2 separate regions of the Homo sapiens genome follow, and region 2 is linked to region 1. The links come from fine-mapping of genetic effects on gene expression. Tissue or cell type: whole blood. Region 1 holds a variant in brackets; the other region holds the start of a gene. All regions are shown on one strand. Distances are from middle to middle.

Region 1 (10,153 bases):
GCTCACCACAACCTCCACCTCCCAGGTTCAAGCAGTTCTCCTGCCTCAGCCTTCCTGAGTAGCTGGGATTACAGGCATGTGCCACCACACCCGGCTAATTTTGTATTTTTAGTAGAGATGGGGTTTTTTCCATGTTGGTCAGGCTGGTCTCGAACTCCTGACCTCAGATGATCCACCCACCTGGGCCTCCCAAAATGCTGGGATTACAGGCATGAGCCACTGTGCCTGGCCGGTTACACTTATTTCTATCAGCAGGATTCTGTTTATATATGAGAGAGAGAAAGAGAAAAAGATAAAGGAAATGTGGTTTTATATATATATATATACACACACACACACACACACACACACACACACACACATACATATGCATACATATATATTAAAAAATAAAGGATTTGGAAAGGCAAATTTGAAATTATATACAGCTCTACCACTTTGGGTTCCTCTTTCAGGAAGTTTTTGCTTTACTTTGGCAATATACTTGATGTGTGCTGTGGTGGTTTTTTTTGTTTGTTTCTAACACTTTTAACCCTCCTCAATTTTTTTTATAATTAAAAAAAATTTTTTTTTTTTTACAGTTTGACCTTAATTTCAGATTTACAGAAGTTACATGAATAATACAAATAATTGCCATAATTATTCTATCAGATTCCCAAAATGTTAACATTCTACCATGTTTACTTTATTCTTTATCTATATATGACTTTATATGTTATATAAATATATATTTTTCCTGAATCATTTGAGTAAGTTACAGATATAATACTCTTTTACCTTGAATAATTCAGTGTCTTTTTCCTAAAAACAAGGATATAATTTTATATAACCTCAGTGCAGTTATCAGAAATCAGGAAATTAACATTGACATAATACTATAATATTAGCTAACATATAGATCTTATTCAGATGTAGCCATTTCCCCATGATAGCAGGAGAAAATCTGGATGTGCATTGTATTTAATTCTCACATGCCTTATACTCCTTTAGAATCTGGAACAGTGCCTTAGTCTGACTTTGTATTTCATGACTGACATTTTTTAAGCATGTAGGATAGTTATTTTATAGAGCATCCTTCAGTTTAGGTTTGTCTCATGTTTCCTCATGATTTGATTCAGGTGACTAATTTTTGAATTGTGTTTTTTCAAGGAATCACATTGGGAGGCACGTGATGTTGATTTGTCCCATTACTGGTGATGTTAACTTTGAGTATTTTTATAAAGTGGTGTATGCTACGTTTTTCATAAAGAATTACTATTTTTAGGCCGGGCGCAGTGGCTCACGCCTGTAATCCCAGCATTTTGGGAGGCCGAGGCGGGTGGATCACTTGAGGTCAGGAATTCGAGACCAGCCTGGCCAACATGGTGAAACCCCATCTCTCCTAAAAATACAAAAAATTAGCTGGGCGTGGTCGTGCATGTCTGTAATTCCAGCTACTCGCTGAGGCTGGAGAGTCTCTTGAACCCGGGAGGCAGAAGTTGCAGTGAGCAAAGATCGCGCCACTGCACTCCAGCCTGGGTGACAGAGTGAGACTCCCTCCATCTTAAAAACAACAACAACAAAAATTACTATTTTTAAATATGGCTGTTTTTCTGTTTGTAATAAGAATTTTGTGGGGTGATGCTTTGAGACTATAAATATCCTTTTAGTTTTCTAATGTTCACCCATTAGTTTTAATATCCATTGATATAATAGGAATATCAATTTTTCTGTGATTATATGTTGCAAATGTTTAATATTTTCTCCCTATCAGTTATCCTTTGACTTTGTTCACGGTGTTATTTTGCCATGCAAAAGTTCTTATTTTGTTTTGATGTAGTCAAATTGATCTATCTTTTATTGCATCTGGGATTTTAAGTCACAGTTAGGAAGCCTCTATATATACCTATGTTAAAGAGGAATTCACCTATTTTTTTTTATAGATTTGTCTGGTTTTATTTTCTAAATTGAGATCCCCGATTAATTTAGAGTTTATTCCTGGCTATAGTATAAGGTATATAAGTCGGTGTTATTTTTTTCATAAATAGTTGTATCTGTATGATTTATTTAAAAGTCTGCCTTTGCCTTAGTGAGTTTTTTTTTTGGTAGTGTTTTTTTTTTTTTTTTTTTTACAGATGAGGTCTGAGGCTGGTCTGGACCTCCTGGGCTCAAGCGATTTTTCCATCTCAGCCTGCCAACTAGTTTGGATAGGTGTATGCCACTGCACCTGGCTTGTAACAGCGATTTGAGATGCTACGTGTATAATGTTCCAGACCAGCCTCAGACCTCATCTCTAAATGTAGTAAAGTTCCATGCATACTTGAGTATACTTCTATATTATTTCACTGGACTGTTTATTTATTTATTTTTTTTGAGATAGTTTCTCACTCTGTCACCCAGGCTGGAGTGCAGTGGCGCAATCATAGCTCCCTGCAGCCTCGAACTACTGGGCTCAAGCATTCCCCCTGTCTCAGCCTCCAGAGTAGCTAGATCTACAGGTGTGTGCCACCACGTCTGGCTAGTTTTAAGGAAATTTTTAATAGAGACGAGGTCTCACCATGTTGCCCAGGCTGGTCTTGAACTCTTGGCCTCAGGCAGTCCTCCTGTCTTGGCCTCCCAAGGTGTTGGGATCATAGGCATAAGCCACCATCCCCAGCCCATTTTTTTTTTCTTTTAACTTGCTTTGGTGAGCAAGGACTCCTTACTTTTATGCCTGTACCATGTTGTTTTAATTATGTAATTATGTTTCAATATCTGCTAGATCAGATTCTCCTCCTAATTTTTATTTGGCTGTCCTTACATGTTCTTCCATATGAACTGAGTATCAACTTTATCTAGTTCCTTAAAAAAGCTTTTTGGTATTTTAGTTGGGATTACATTATATTCATAATTAATTTAGGGAGAAGTGACATCTCTATGATGTTCAGTCTTGCTACCCAAGACCACAGAGTGTCTTTGTATTTGTCAGGTCTACTTGTGTCTTTCAGGAGTGTTTCCAGTTTTCCATATATAGGTTTTTCTTATTTCTTTTTAAAATGTTTTTGTTATTTTAGCCAACCTTTTTGACCAAGAGTTTTTGCCTGTTTCTTTTTAATTTTTTTTTTTTAAAACAAATCATCTTTATGTATTTGTTTTGAGACAGGGTCTTGCTCTGTCACCCCAACTGGAGTGCAGTGGTGTGATCTTGGCTCACTGCAGCCTCTGCCTCCTGGGTTCAAGCTATTCTCCTGCCTCAGCCTCCCAAGTAGCTGGAACTAGAGGTGCCTGCCACCATGCCGGGCTAAATTTTGTATTTTTAGTGGAGATGAGGTTTTGCCGTGTTGCCCAGGCTGGTCTCGAACTCCTGGGCTCAAGTGATCTGCCCACCTCAGCCACCCAAAGTACTGGGATTACAGGTGTGAACCACTGTACCCAGCTTGAAATTTATGTATGTATGTATTTATTTTTGAGGCAGAGTCTTGCTCTGTCACCTAGGCTGGAGTGCAATGGCGCGATCTCGGCTCACTGCAACCTCCGCCTCCCGGGTTCAAGCGATTGTTGTGCCTCAGCCTCCTGTGTAGCTGGGACTACAGGCACATGCCACCACGCCCAGCTAATTTTTGCATTTTTAGTAGAGACAGGGTTTTGCCATGTTGGCCAGGCTGGTCTTGAACTCCTGACCTCAGGTGATCTGCCCATTTCAGCCTCCCAAAGTGCTGGGATTACAGGCATGAGCCACCATGCCCAGCCCCAGCTTGAAATTTATTCTAAGTATTTAACCTTCTTCATTACTGTTGAAAATGGGATTTTCTGGACCGTTACATCTTATAACTGGTTTATGTTTGTATGTATGAAGGCTTTTGATTTCTGTATATTCATCTTTTATCCTGCTACTTTACTGAATTAAAAATTTTTTTTTAGTTTTATCATTGGCTCTGCAGGGGTTTTTAGGTTAGTTTTCATTTACAGCCCACCTTCCACCCCCACCCCTGTATATTGAGGGACTGCCCTCAAGATTCAGATGCAAGTCTATTGCAGCTTAGTGGAATCCTGCAACCAAATTGACTGTACTTAAAAGAAAAGCTCCATTTATTTATTTATTGTAATAAATTGTACATTTATTTTTTCTTCTCATCAGCAACACTAGCATTTTTTTTTTCTGGGACATCTTTCTTAAAGGAGTGATGCTTCTGTTCATGAAAGTTATTGCTCTATATCTAGTAGAGAACAGCAAAGCTAGTAACGGACTGGGTTTACCAGTTAAGTGTACTCACTTGTGCCATCCTGTTGTACAGCTCAGCAAAATACATTTCTATGTGCCACAGTCCTTTAGAATCACTTCTGAATATGTGAAGTCAATGTTAAAACTACTGCTGCAAAGGGTCTGCTGTAGTCAGCTAACCTGTTGAAGGTTGGGAGAGTTTAAGTAAATCATTTGAGGAAAGTCACAAGTATAGTTGCATAATTGTTAGGCACAGAATGAAGCATTTACTGTCAGCATGTCCTGTCATCCTCCTTTTTCAGGCCCACAGGCCCCTTGAGATTTGTGCCAGTTGATGTTGCTGTCTCTGGCCACCCTTATTCCCTAGCTGAGCTCTCGCAAGCCTCATAGGCTCCTGAAGAGAGAGTGACTATGTCCTCCCATGGCAGTAGTGACTTGATTAGACTTCTCTCTGATTACTGGAGCTCAGCCCTCACTAGTTTTTCTGAATAGGGAATTTTACTTCTATTAGTGTATTTGATTTTCTATTTTTCCCCTCCCTCCTCTTCTTAAATAATACCCTGGCTCCTTGATAACATTTCACCCTGTATTTTCTGCAGACCTTCTCTGAACTTACATTTCCACCAGGAGGCTTCCTTAGCACTCCACACTTTCACTGTGACTCACCAGCACACTGGATCTGCTCAAATGTTGTTAGCTTTCATAGGAAAAACCATCACCCCTTCCAAGCTGTGAGCCAGTAAAAAAGAATGATGCTACTAGTAAGACAAGCTTCTTGAAAATTATTTCCCTCAGCTTAAAAAAATGGGACTCCTAGGGCTATTTGCCTTATGAAAGCACTTTGTGAACTAAGCTATTATAGAAATGTTAAGTGGTATTAACAATACATTTAGAAGAGGTAAGATCCTGCGTTTATATGTATCATGAGCACTTTCATCCTGCCAGTTTATGATCATAGTTACTTAGTGATTCAAGATCACCTTTTTGAGGAGGCATATCACTGATAGGTGTTTTCACTGTAGACAGCTTATCTCCTGTGCTGCACCCTTCTGATTTGATCCTGACTCGAGGAACCTTGGATGAAGAGGATGAGGAAGCAGACAGCGATACTGATGACATTGACCACAGAGGTGAGAGGTGGCTGAGGTGGCCCGTGGCAACAGAGCATCTGCTTATCCTCACATTGTTTGCCCAGGAGTTTCTTGCTTTAAGCGTGTAGCCAGTAATAGTGGATAAAGGATACAGCACCAGAAAAGAGTTTCCTATATTGAGAGTTCCTGTCCTGCCTACTGGATGGTTAATACTGAGCTGATTACAGGCCTTTCGTTGGTCTTGTGTCTTCTTATCTTTAGGTCCTAACTTGGTTTGAGGGATCCAGGACTTTTGTTTGTTGTTATTAGTATTTTGTTTTAAGAATATGTAAGGGCTGGGTGTGGTGGCTCATGCCTGTAATCCCACTGCTTTGGGAGGCCAAGTCAGGAGGATTGCTTGAGGCCAGGAGTTCTGGACAAGCCTGGGCAACATAGTTAGTCCCACTCTCTACAAAAAAGAAAAAAATAGCTGGGCATGGTTACTCACACCTGTAGTTCAAGCTGTTTGGGAGGCTGAGGTGGGTGGGTTGCTTGAGCCCAGAAGTTTGAGGCTATTATGAGCTATGACTGTGCCACAGAACTCCAGGCTGGGTGACAGAGTAAGACCATCTCAAAAACAAAAAACACAAATAATACATAAGGTTATATGGACTAAAACAGTAAGGATAGAATGGCTCTGGAAACCCAAATTCCACTTGGCATAGTTTTATGGACTGTGCGCAGAATCTAATTGTTACTATTATTTTTTTGAGACAGAGTTTTGCTTCATTGCCCAGGCTGGAGTGCAGTGGCACGATCTCAGCTGACTGCAACCGCTGCCTCCCGGGTTCAAGTGATTCTCCCACTTCAGCCTCCAGAGTAGCTGGGACCACAGGCACATGCCATCACAGCTGGTTAATTTTTTATATTTTTAGTAGAGACGGGGTTTCGCCATGTTGGCCAGGCTGGTCTCGAACTCCTGGCCTCAAGTGATCCGCCCATCTCGGCCTCCCAAAGTGCTGGGATTACAGGCATGAGCCACCATGCCCTGCCAGAATCTGATTCTTGAAACAACCATAGGCCGGGCACGGTGGCTCACGTCTGTAATCCCAGCACTTTGAGAGCCAAGGTGGGCGGATCACCTGAGGCCAGGAGTTCAAGACCAGCCTGACCAACATGGTGAAACCCCATCTCTACTACAAGTACAAAAAATTAGCTGGGCTTGGTGGCAGGCACCTGTAATCCCAGCTACTTGGGAGGCTGAGGCAGGAGGACTGCTTGAACCTGGGAGGCGGAGGCTGCAGTGAACTGAGAGCTCACCATTGCACTCAGGCCTCGGTAACAAGAGTGAAACTTGATCTCAAAAAACAAACAAACAAACAAACAAAAAAACACGAAAACCACCATACGATTTAGGTCTTAGCTATGGCCAAGAGCAAATCTCCTTATTCTTTAGGCTGGGTTTTACATGTAAATTGCCTTATTTAATCAGATTTTTTAAGATGTAGTTTACCAACAGTGAAACTCACTTTTTGAGTATATAGTTTGATGAGCTTTAATAAATATATACTTTCTTGTAACCACAATCACAGTTGAAATGTAGAGCACTTCCCTCACCCCCCAAAACTTCCTCATGCCCCTTTTTTTTCAGTCCCCATCCTGAACACCTAGTGCCTGGCAACCACTGACTGATTTCTGTTCCTTTGATCTTGCCTTTTCCAGAATGCCATAGAAATAGAATCACAGTATTTAGCCTTTTGCATTTGACTTTTTTGACTCAGTAGTGTAGTCTCTCCATGTTGTTGCATGTATCAGTATGTTCTTTTTTATTGCTGAGTGATATTCCATTATTGTGGATGTTCCACAGTTTGTTTATCCATTCCCCAGTGGACTGATATTTGGGTAGATTTTAGCTATTATGAGTAAAGCAACTATAAACGTTTCCAAATAGATCTTTGTGTAGACGTATGTTTTCATTTCTCTTGGTTAAAAATACCTACAAGTGGGACCTTATTTTAGCTACTATGAGGGAGGTATTCTTTCTACTTATAAAGAAACTACATTTTGGGCAGCATGATAGAGCATGCTTCTAGGAGACATTTCCTTTTTGAGGGAAGTGAGTACTTAAGTTTCTTAGAAGTAATGTACTGTTTTCTGATGGATGGGTGACGGGCTCTAATCAGTTTGTCTAATGAAAGAGTTGAAAAAGAATTGCCCTTTTTTCCT[T/G]GCAGTTACAGAGGAAAGCCATGAAGAGCCAGCATTCCAGAATTTTATGCAAGAATCGATGGCACAATACTGGAAGAGAAACAATAAATAGGAGACTTTAGCACACTTCACTTGTTTCTAGAAGTCCAGAATTTTGGACCTCCACGTGAAAGAACTGTTCTTACCTCTGAACTGGGGGCTCCCATAAGGGATAATTTTCCTCAGAGTAGCAAAGTTTCTCTTATTAGAGAAATCTTGTGACTCAGATGAAGTCAGGGATAGAAGACCCTTGGACCTGGCAGGTTAATGCTGATTATTCCTTGGCCTTTCCCTTGTATTTATGCAAGGAAGGATATACTGAGCTGATACTCTTCCAAGCCTACAACTTCAAGTTTTATCATTTGAACTCAAGTACTTTTGCTGCTGAGGAATGGAATCAAAAGAACGTAGTCTCCTGGTGACCACCTCAGATCTCTATTATTAGGCTAGATGTATAGCCTCTACTCCCCCAGCTTCTTGCTCTTGACCCTGCACTGTAAGTTGCCCTTCTATTAGCAGCCAAGGAAAAGGGAAACATGAGCTTATCCAGAACGGTGGCAGAGTCTCCTTGGCAATCAACCAACGTTGCTATGAAATATGCCTCACACTGTATAGCTCATTATAGGACGTCAGGTTTGTTGAAAAAAGTGGGCAAGACATGATTAATGAATCAGAATCCTGTTTCATTGGTGACTTGGATAAAGACTTTTTAATTTTAACTTTGTTCTAAGACTGCTTGTCATGATTTCAAATTAGAAAATTATATAATTGCAAACAGCTTCACTTCTCCTGTTCAACAGAGGCTTAAGGCCAGATGTCCAAACTTGTCTCAATAAGGAGGTGATATTTTACTAAAGTTTCCCACGTGCACATACTGACTAAATACAGAGCTAGGCCCAGTTTGTATTGTACTCTGAACTTAATGCAAAGTCTCCTTGGTGATTTTCGCAAAGTCCGTGGATTTGGGTCAGAGGCACATTTCATACATAACAGCCCTTATAAACGTTTGCCCTGCCTCCACATTTTACAGTATCTTAAAACAGTACATTTCTTTCAAAGAATTTTATCTCTATGAGTCAGTACTCCAACTTAGTGGTTCTCACATTGTGGACCAGGAGCATCAGCATCATCTGGGGAATTGTTCAACTTACCTCTTATAACCTATGAACTCAGAAACCCTGGGGGTGGGCTGAGCAGTCTGTTTTAGAAAGCCCTCCATGTGATTCTGATGCATAGTAGCCTATGACATAATTCCAGACCAGGTGAATCTCAAGATACTAATCCTCACATCATTTGCCTTCTCATATTTCCCTCGTCTTGACCATCTGGTGCCTGTTATGCAGTTTAACATTCTGCAGCAATAAAAGTGTTTTATTATAAAGTATTAATTTTAATGTTCTATACTTAGTGGGAACCACTGGTCTCAAAATTTGAAGCTATTCTTTAAGAGGAGAACATTCGCAAAACTCAAGCATACTTGGTTTTTCTCTGTAGTACTTTTGAATGCTTTATCTTCCTTACAGAATAACTTGTCTTCCTTATGCTTCAAGCTCCAAAAGGGTAAGGAAGAAGTCTTAATCATTTTTGTATTCCTTGCACAGGACCTAGCAAATAATTGGTACTCAATGTTTGCTGGATGAATGAACTAAATTCCCATACGGCCACTTTATGGAAACTAACTGCCTAATCGCCACTTTCATTATAAACAAAGGAAAATGAAGATAAGACTGCAACAGAGGCCAGGTGCAGTGGCTCACGCCTGTAATCCCAGCACTTTGGGAGCCCGAGGCGGGCAGATCACTTGAGGTCAGGAGTTTTGAGACCAGCCTGGCCAACACGGTGAAACCTCATCTCTACTAAAAATGCAAAAATTAGCTGGGTGTGGTGGCATGTGCGTGTAATCCCAGCTACTCAGGTGGCTGAGGCAGGAGAATCGCTTGAACCTGGGAGGCAGAGGTTGCAGTGAGTCGAAATTGCACCATTGCACTCCAGCCTGGGTGACAGAGCAAGACTCCATCTCAAAAATAAATAAATAAATAAATAAATTAAAAAAAAGACTGTGACAGAAAGGGTTTAGAGAAATGTGCTAAAGAGTTACAATTGGCAAATTTAAAATTATATGTTAAACTATAACCTCATTTGTATCATATTCATTTATTCTCAATACCTGGGACATTTAAGGCATTCAATAATGAATTAAAGCTGTGCCTTATTTTGGTCTGCATTAAAGGAGTGGTCTAAATTTTACAAGATATATTTTGCATCAGAAAATCAAACTTCAGCAGTTTAACATGCTGGCATCCATCACCAAGGCATGAAGCAACACATTTGCTAATGATTCCTAATCACTACAGTGCTACATCATTTACTTAATAAATACTGATTCAGTACTTATATATACAGATAGTCTGATGGATGAGTAACCACAGTGATGTTGTTCAGGACATGATGTAAAGTTGAAAGGTGCATATTGCTATGTTTTAAAGGCTGCCTTTACAGTAGAAGCAGCAAAGTGTGCTTAATGGACTGCTGTCCTCTGATGACCAAGCAAATGCAACAAATGAAATATGCACAAGGCTGTCCTTGGACAGTACTTGTTTGCTTTGCTCACAAAGGAGAAAAGGAAAGAAACAATTGAAAATATGTATATGGTGAAAGT
Region 2 (8,989 bases), 20 kb before region 1:
TCAGTATAGACTATTCTAATCACAGTATTGAGTTTTAAAGTTTTTTTAAAAAAAATTCATTAGACTAACAAACTAAGTTTGACAGTATTATGAACTTTCATACATGGTTTGGAATGCAAATTGGTACAATCACTTCAAAAGTGATTTGGCAGTATCTAGCAGAGTTGAAGATATGTACCCGAAGACTTAGCAGTTTCTCTCCTGGGTATACACAGAGTAACTCCTTTTGTCTAGGCGTACCAAGAGACACAAAAAAGAATGATTATTGCAGTACAGTTTACAGTAGAGAAATACTGAAAACAAGTATCAGAGATCTACTTTCACCTTTGCAAATTATGGGATTATAGAACAAATGGCTAGACTGTATATTTCCTAGTTATCCCCCTTCCCTCCACTCTCTCTAGTGAAGGAGAAGCCAGCTAACTCCTCTCCCATGGAATGTGAGTGGAGTGATGAATGCCACTTGCAGGTTAGAACTTTTGAGTGGGTGTACCTCCAAGCTTTCTTTACCCTTCTTCTGGCTAAATGCAGATGATGATGGGGCCCTAGGAGATGGAAGAACACAAAATGGAAGATATCTTGACCCCCTGAATCACCTGTTGAAGGAGAGCCACTTGCCAACCAGGAACATGTATCTGAGACTATTAAGTGAGCAAGAAATAAATGTCTGTTATTTGAGACATTATACATTCTTGGGTCTCTTTGTTAGCCTACTCTAATACACAATAATTATCCATTATCAGAATGGATAAATTGTGATATAGTCATACAGTAGAATACTATACAAGCTATAAAATTGAGTAGGGTTTCTCGTATCATCATGAATATGTCTCAATGTCTGGGGCCAGGCACAGTGGCTCACACCTGTAATCCTAACGTTTTGGGAGGCTGAGGCTGGAGGATCGCTTGAGCTCAGGAGTTCTAGACCAACCTGGGCAATGTGATGAAATCTCATCTCTACAAAAAAATTAAAAAAATTAGCTGGGCATTGTGGTGTGCACCTATAGTCCCAGCTAGTTGGGAGGCCGAGATGGGAGGACTTCTTGGGTCCAGGAGGTCAAGATGCTGCTATGAGCTGTGATCACACTACTGCACTCCAGCCTGCGTGACACAGTGAGACCGTCTAAAAAAATACAAAGAATATTCTGCACATCTCCTTAAAAGAGAACATTTTAGAAATTTACTCTTGCTTCATCTCTCTCTTCTTATAGCAAATCCATTAGCAAGTCCTGCCTACCACCAACTACATTTTGAATCTGTTCACTCTACTTCTGCCATTCCAATCTAAGCCATCATTACCTCTTGCCTAGACTACAGTATCTTCGTAATTGGTTTCCTTCCACTTTTTTCTGGCTTGGATACACTCCACATAACAGTTGTAGTTTTTAAAATTAGGTAAATCAGACCTCATTCACCTGCTAAAGGCCCTCGGTGCCTAAACTCCTGCTAGCCTTAATAGCCTCATCTTCCTTTCCTCCACTCATGTTCTGTGACCATTCCTCAACTATACTTTACATACACACCTTTCTGTTCCTTGAACCTACCAAGCTTATTGCCATCTTAAGGCATTTGCATTCACTGTTGCCTCTGCCTAGAATAGTTTCTTCCCCAGTTTTTGCATTGTAGGCTTCATTTTAGCAATCATAGGTCTTAAATTTCACCTCAGAGGTCTTTTCCATCTAAACTCACTTTCTGTAACATAACCCTGTGTAATTTTCTAAATAGCAAAGCAGACAAAATGCAGATTGAAATCTTAGTTGGCCAACTTGCTGCTTACTTAGAGGTATGGATTTCAAGGTATGAAATCAGTTATCATTCAACTTTTAATGTCTTCAAGCCCTCACTCTGGAAGGGACAGCCACAAGCAGTATACCATATCCATTACCTGGGATGATAAGTAAAAATGAACTGAGATCAGGTGGAAGTTACCCACTCTTGAATTAGATAATTGGGACACCAGTGGCAGGAGGGGAATTAACAGAACTAATATGCTTCCTACTTTCCAACTTTTTATCAGCCTTAGAAATACATTGTCTTAGGGTTTTTACGTCCACAGAGACTAAGCCTTCAAGTTTGTCTTGGATACCATGCTTTCCTTGTTCAGTGTTTCTGTATTTTCAGCTCACAAATTGAGATTTAGGTTAAAGTACCTGTATGCTAAAATCCTAATTTCTGCATTAAAACTAGTTTTTATTATTTGCACATGTGAATAAGACATTTAAGAGTGGTAACAGAAGAGTGATGAAGTAGAAAATGTGTTACATTGGAACAGTAATAAAATCAGTGGATAAATGTTTTTATTTAATAACATTGTTTAATAAAAAACTACATATTTAACAGAAAAGTTGTTAAAGCTACAAGGTAAAGGCACATTGAAGGAGAATGCTTTTTAAATCCAATTTTCAGGGAATTCACTTTACATGTAAATAAAGCAGAAAATGCAGGAAAATTATTTTGAAGTTTTTCATCACTTAACAATTTCTGGGAAACAAAGTTCATCCTATTTTCCCATAGAGGACCCCTGTTAAAATATAAGATTATATTCCCCTATACTAGGATTCAGCATTCAAATAAATCACTAGTCCAACTTCAATGTCGTAGAACCCAAAAAAAATATAACTATCCTAAAAATATATAATTTAAAATATAATTTATAGTTATACTAAATGGGAATAAACATATGGCACACATTAATTACAAAGGATACTTCATGTACTAGAAAGTGCACCTGTAAGAAAATTAATAAATGACCTAAAACTAAAGCATTTAGGATAACAAACATCATTTTACTTGCTATCTTTTAGAATGCTGCTAGGGAAATCGATGGCACTTAAAAAAAAAGTTGTCCAAATATTTCAACTTTTTTTGGATACGTTTTCCTGAAATAAGTGGAGGCATTCAGTCACCTCAATGCTACAGGTGTTTCTTCAAATAAAACATTTTCAAAAGTAAGAGCTGACCTAATATATGTCTCCTTCATCTTTTCTTACCTTCTCAAACTTGTAGGGGCTTAGCATCAGATGAAAGGTCACTCTGCCTAGCACTTACTGGACTTGCTGTTATCAGAATGCTTTTTCACTCATGAGAAAACTAGAAGGAGCTACCTGGTCACTGGCACAAACTCACAAAGAGCTTGTAAAAACTGCTTTTGTCTGCTAAGTTGGTCAAAAGGAATGAGGATAAACTGGCAGAACGCTATTCAAAGTCTATTTGGAATGCTATCCTTAAAGGTACTTTCTCTATAAAGAAATACAATTTAGCTAGATGAAATAAATCACAACTGTTTTCACTTCCTTAGGTTGGTTTCCTTTAGCTAGTTTGATGTATGGTAAATGGCTAGGTTAGGGTCATGTGTTAGGTTAACTGGAGGTTTGTGGAATAGCTTATTAACGAGTATTTAAAGAAAAAGCTAGTTAAGGGAAGCTGGTTACCAAATATCTAGTAGGACTGTTGGATAAAACCATCTAATCCTTCACTCCAACACATCATGATGGAGATTTTACAATAGCAATCTGGAATCCAACAGCCTTTCTAACCAGGTTAATGTAGCACTTAAGAGTACTTGCTCCAGTTCTTATTTAATCAGTGTTATTTTAGAAGTTACTTTGGATTAATCCTTGATTTGGTGCCTTGGGGAAGACTGGGTGTGGTCTTTGGAACATCCTGTCTATTTAGGCACTGATTATGACTTCCTTGCAGTCTCTGCCTCGCCTGGATTAAGGACTCCAGATACCACTGTTCCTGCTGCAGCTGCTGCTTCCTGTTTTCTAAGTGGCTTTGAGTAGCCGTTAGTTTCTGGGCTTGCTCAATTAGCTGCAGTAATTCCTTCTTGAACTGCTGGTTCTCTCTGTTGATGCCACAGGAGTATTCAAAAATAAACCGCTTTGCTGCCAACTTCAAGGCCTGGGCCTTCATATTAAGCTCTCTTCTTTTTCTCTTTCCCAGTAGCCTCCTGTCTGGCTCGCTCAGTTGTTTCTCCAGTAATCTTTTCTCCTGGAGGAGCTGGGCCTGTACTTCCCGTGTCTTTGAAGCTGTCTCAGCTTGGACTTTCTTTGTCTCCTCCTGTAATGTCTGTATTTCTTTCTCCTGCTTTTCCTTTAATATAGCAATGTCCCTCATTGCCTGCAACTTCCGCTTCAAACTGGATTGGATATTTTCCTTTTGCAAGAGCGCTGTTTTAAGCACTGAAATTTGTTCTGCATATCTGGAGGCTGATTCTTGTCTTCTTCGTTCAATCTCTCCACTTTTTTGTAAATAGCTGTTCCATACCTTCTCAGGTTGCTCTGTGTACTCTTCAGTTTTGTTAGTCAGGTATTCCAGAAAGAATCTGTTTTCAGCCTGGACAAGTAACTTTTCTCGGTGTAGCTCCCTGGATTCCTCCAGTAGCTGTTTCCGCTGGGTTTGAGCTTGTTTTATATGCTTGTTCAGATCCGTCATTTCCGCCACTATCTTTTCTTTAAGCCTTGTCTCTACCTTTGTTAGCTTCTCTGGCTTGACAAAATTATTTATTAGACTATGATACGGTGGAAGGAGCCTTCTGGGGCCCTCAGCAAACCTGAAAGAACAAACGAGACATTCCTCTGTCAGTTAATGAAACTTTAGGAAGTAAGTGCACAACTGTCCTTCATTCATACAAGAGAATATTTCTGAGCACCAGAATGTTCCAGACATTATGCAAGGTGTGGGGAATCCAGCTAGTGGTAAAGGATGAGGAATGTAGCTCGTCATTTACAACGTGCATTCACTACAACCCTGGGAGGTATTACCTCAGTTTTAAAAAAGGAGAAAACAGGTTCAGAGAGTTTAAGTGACTTGCCCATGACTCACACCACTAGCAAGTGGCAGAGCCTGGGTATTAAAGCCAGATCTTATGACTTACTGAACACTGTTTGCAGCTACAAAGGGTCACAGAAACAGACTGGGTGGTCAGGAGTAGAAATAATTTTCTAGGCTCTTTCATCATCTTTCCTGAGTTTCTGAGGGACCTTCAGTGACTGGAGGGGAGGAAGCTCCCCTCCAGTACCTACTTGCACCTGGAATCCAAGCATTCATCCTGAAGGTCACGGCAACTGTGTAGTTCACTGAGGGTGACTGCCAAGGAATGAGCGCTAGCATCAGGAACCTGCGTCTGCAACTCGCGGGAACAATGTGCAAGTGTGGAAAGCTCCCGTAGTTTATTCGTTCGGTGCTCAAAGGGTCTCGGTGCTGCCCAGCAACCCTGGAGACTGCACCCTGCTCCAGTCCCGGCTGGTCCAGCCCTGAACTGTTTAACCGCCTCGGCTACCGAATAAGCCCGAGCAGCCGGTCCTCCAGTGGCTCCGCTCCCCGTTCTCTGTGGGCTCAAAATGACAGGCATGCTCCTCGTTTTCTTGCTGTGTGAGCCCTGCCCTCGGGACCCCATCTCTTCTGGCCTTCCTCCGGGAGACAAAAGCCCTCCCAGGCTGCAGAGATCAGCGCCCTTTTCCTAGCTCCCTTCAGCCTTCCTCTCGCTTGCTCAGCGCCCCCACTTCCTCGCCACTGTCACTAGTTGACTCATCAGCCCTGCCCGACGCTAAGAAGATGCCCTGGCAACCGCCGCGCCCCTCACCCGCTCCTTTCTGACGCTGTGGTGGTTTTCGTTCGCAGCCCAGAACATTGCGGAAGTTTCTCTACCCATGCGGTGTCTCTATGGTCGGGTGGGTGGGGCCAGGAGGAAGATGGCGGCGTCCGCAGCTGCCGCTGAGCTCCAGGCTTCTGGGGGTCCGCGGCACCCAGTGTGTCTGTTGGTGTTGGGAATGGCGGGATCCGGGAAAACCACTTTTGTACAGGTGACGTACACAGCATGGGTGTAGTAGGGGAGCGCAAAAGGTTGCCTCCGGCAGGCGGAAGGCCAGGAAGAAAGGGAGGGAAGAGGATTTGGAGGGTACCGGCGCATGGCTTTCGGGGGCTTCCCATCAACTTTAGTTCCTTCCCCGGCAAAGCCTCCTCGGGCCCTAGCCAGGTTAATTAAGGCTCTCTTCTGCGCACCTTCAGGGCATACTCGGTCCAGCTTACCACGTTGTACAGGAATTGTCTTGCTGATAAAATTGCGTTTCTCGGAGGCAAGTTACAAGTAACTTTAAAGATTAATACAGTGCTAGCACACAGGTTTTGGTGAAGATTTGCCAAATATTTCTTGCACGCCTGTCATGTTCCATTCACTGGGGATATAGCGAAAATGAGGTTGACAAGATTCATTCGTGGGGCCAAATATTTAATGGAGGAGATAGAGAAAACCCACATACGAAGAATCAAAACAAGTAAACAAGTGACTACGAGTAGGGGAAGCTTTGTTAGATGGGTGATGAAGAAAGGTAGCATTTGAACTGAGAGTTGTATCTTGGAGGTGGACATGGTGGATATTTCAGGTAGAAGAAAATCTAAGTGCAATATTCTTAAGGCATGGGTGTTAAAGGAATGGAAGTTCTCTCTTGTCCCCTCTTTGTCTCCTTCCAACCCTCTCCCCATATCTCTGCAGAGGCTCACAGGACACCTGCATGCCCAAGGCACTCCACCGTATGTGATCAACCTGGATCCAGCAGTACATGAAGTTCCCTTTCCTGCCAATATTGGTGAGTAAACCAGTAACATAACTTGTGTGCAGTGCTTTAAAGAGAATGGAAAAGGCCAGGCGTGGTGGCTCACGGCTGTAATCTCAGCACTTTGGGAGGCCGAGGCAGGTAGATCACGAGGTCAGGAGTTCAAGACCAGCCTGGCCAAGATGGTGAAACTCCATCTCTACTAAAAATACAAAAAATTAGCCAGGCACGGTGGCAGGCACCTGTAATTCCAGCTACTCGGGAGGCTGAGGCAGGAGAGTTGCTTGAACCCGGGTGGCAGAGGTTGCAGTGAGCCAAGATCGTGCCACTGCACTCCAGCCTGGTCAATAGAGTGAGACTCTGTAAAGCCTCCAGCCTGCCAGTCTTCAGTGCCTTCTTTTTTCATGTTTTCTAAACTATCTACTTTCATTTCCTTTGGATTTGCTTGCATTCCTAAACAGCTTAGGTTTTTTTTTTTTTTTTTTTTTTTTTAGACAGAGTCTCTGTCACCCAGGCCAGAGTGCAGTGGCGTGATTCACAGGTCACTGCAGCCTCAACATCCCAGGCTCAAGTGATCCTCCCACCTCAGCCTCCTGCCGCTATGCTGGGCTAGTTTTGTTTTGTTTGGAGAGACAAGGCCTCTCTATGTTGCCCAGGCTGGTCTTGAACTCCTGGGCTCAAGTAATCCTCCTGCCTTGGCCTCCCAAAGTGCTGGGATTATAGGTGTGAGCCACTGTGCCCAGCCTAACTCCTTTTAAAAAATCATGTCTGCATTGCCATTGTGTTGCCTTTGTCAGTAATAGGCAATTAGTAAGAAGCATTTTTTCCCCCTTGATTTTTGCCTCCCTTTTTCTAGGCATGTTTAAGTTGCATGAAACTTTGCACTTTGTGGAGACAAAACTCTTTGCCACAACTTTAGAGCTCCTAGCCCTAACATTCTTCATGATTTACTTGGCATTTATTCTTTGTAAGGAAGGAAACCAGTGTGAAAGTGGAGGTGGTAGAAGAGAATGCTGACAGGAGAAGGCTAGAAGGCCAGTTTTACTTTCCTGGTGGTAGGGAATGTGTATGTATTACATTCCAGTTAATTCTTTTTTTTCTCCTCAGATATTCGTGATACTGTAAAGTATAAAGAAGTAATGAAACAGTATCCTTTTCCATCTACTTTGGTCTTGACTCATTCCTGGCTTCTTGTCTGTGTATTTTGTGGCTTGAAAGAGTGTTTTTGCCTTTTCCTTGTGAAATATACAAGCAAAAGGATGGAAGCTGATTGTGGGAGAGGTAGGTGATCAGAAATACTATTTCAGCTTGAGATTTTAGTTTTCTTACCATCTCCCCAGATGGCAGGCTGTTGTAATTAAAGAGCAGAGAGTATGATAGGATAACTGACAGCTACCTGGGTCCCACAAGGTAGTATTTTGCCTTGGAGGATCATCTGTTGGTCACCACCTCTTTAGACTGGGAAACTCAGAAATGAGTGAGTTTAGTTGGATTAACTCTTAGTAAATTGCTGTATGAAATGTGTACTCTCTCCGTAGGCAAGTCTAAGTAGGAAGACTAATCATAATCAGCAGATTGCTTGGTTTATTTATGAGGATCAGAGCCGGAGGTGTTATACAGGTGGCCTTAATGACCAATGCCAGTGGGCTGTCACTGCCTGATGCACCTGTATTACATTTTGGTCACTTTGCTTTCTTCATTTTGCCTGACCACTCCTTAAATCAAATGAGTGAGCCAGACCTTGATAATGACTGTTTCCCTGTGTGGTTAAGTTTGTATGGTAGTCAAGGATTAGGTTGCCAGTATCCATTAATGGAACACTAATTTCATAATGCCGTTTGTGTGAATGATAGCCTAGGTATGAACTTTATAATCTAATCTATAAGCGATTTCAGTCCTCAACTTGGTGTCTAGATATGGACTTGGACCCAATGGCGGCATAGTGACCTCACTCAATCTCTTTGCTACCAGATTTGATCAGGTATATCTGTCTTTAGTATATTAATATGGTTGTGTAAAAATCTGTGACTCTTAAATTCCTTAGCTTGATCACATTGGTAAAGAAGAGCAGCAAACCTGAGCATAAATATAGAAAATAAGTAGGCATTTTGTCAGACAGAGAAGTAGACTATGAGAAGGTGATCAGTATGGTCAGACACTTCAAATTTAATATTTGTGACAGCTAATAAAAATCCAAAAGACCTGGGTTATTTTCTTGACCTGTTCTTTGCCTGTGGTATTACCCCGAAGCTGGGATGGGGGTATTTGGGAGTGGGATGGACTAGCAGTCATGGAATGGAAAGATGATGGGGCATTTTACTTGTGATAAATATTTGTCATTCTTTAGGTTTTCTTTGTCACCTACTTCCATAAGAGTGTTTTATAATCACTGGTTTTTATACTCTGATGTTAGGCCATGAGACAGGCTGTTA

What was found. PIP is the estimated chance that this variant, and not a neighbour inherited with it, causes the effect.
Region 2: it holds the start of GPN1, and the variant in region 1 is fine-mapped to the expression of GPN1 in whole blood (TOPMed, PIP 0.94).

What each region holds. Positions count from the first base shown.
Region 1 is chr2:27,642,634-27,652,786 of GRCh38, forward strand. GPN1 (GPN-loop GTPase 1) reads left to right here. Exons shown (of 14, transcript NM_007266.4): 13 at 5,203-5,310; 14 at 7,482-8,878. The coding sequence ends at 7,567. It overlaps SUPT7L (SPT7 like, STAGA complex subunit gamma), which reads right to left. Exons shown (of 6, transcript NM_014860.3): 6 at 8,176-10,153. Among named protein-coding and RNA genes, the nearest start is that of SUPT7L, 16 kb to the right of the region's middle. RefSeq lists an enhancer at 9,974-10,153. The variant T/G (reference allele first, on the strand shown) is at 7,477.
Region 2 is chr2:27,623,363-27,632,351 of GRCh38, forward strand. GPN1 (GPN-loop GTPase 1) reads left to right here and starts at 5,688. Exons shown (of 14, transcript NM_007266.4): 1 at 5,688-5,807; 2 at 6,497-6,590; 3 at 7,665-7,704; 4 at 8,472-8,538. The coding sequence starts at 5,697. It overlaps CCDC121 (coiled-coil domain containing 121), which reads right to left and starts at 5,650. Exons shown (of 2, transcript NM_024584.5): 1 at 5,588-5,650; 2 at 2,276-4,555. The coding sequence starts at 4,437. The coding sequence ends at 3,601. RefSeq lists a silencer at 4,620-4,914 and enhancers at 5,363-5,422, 5,483-5,792, 5,833-5,932.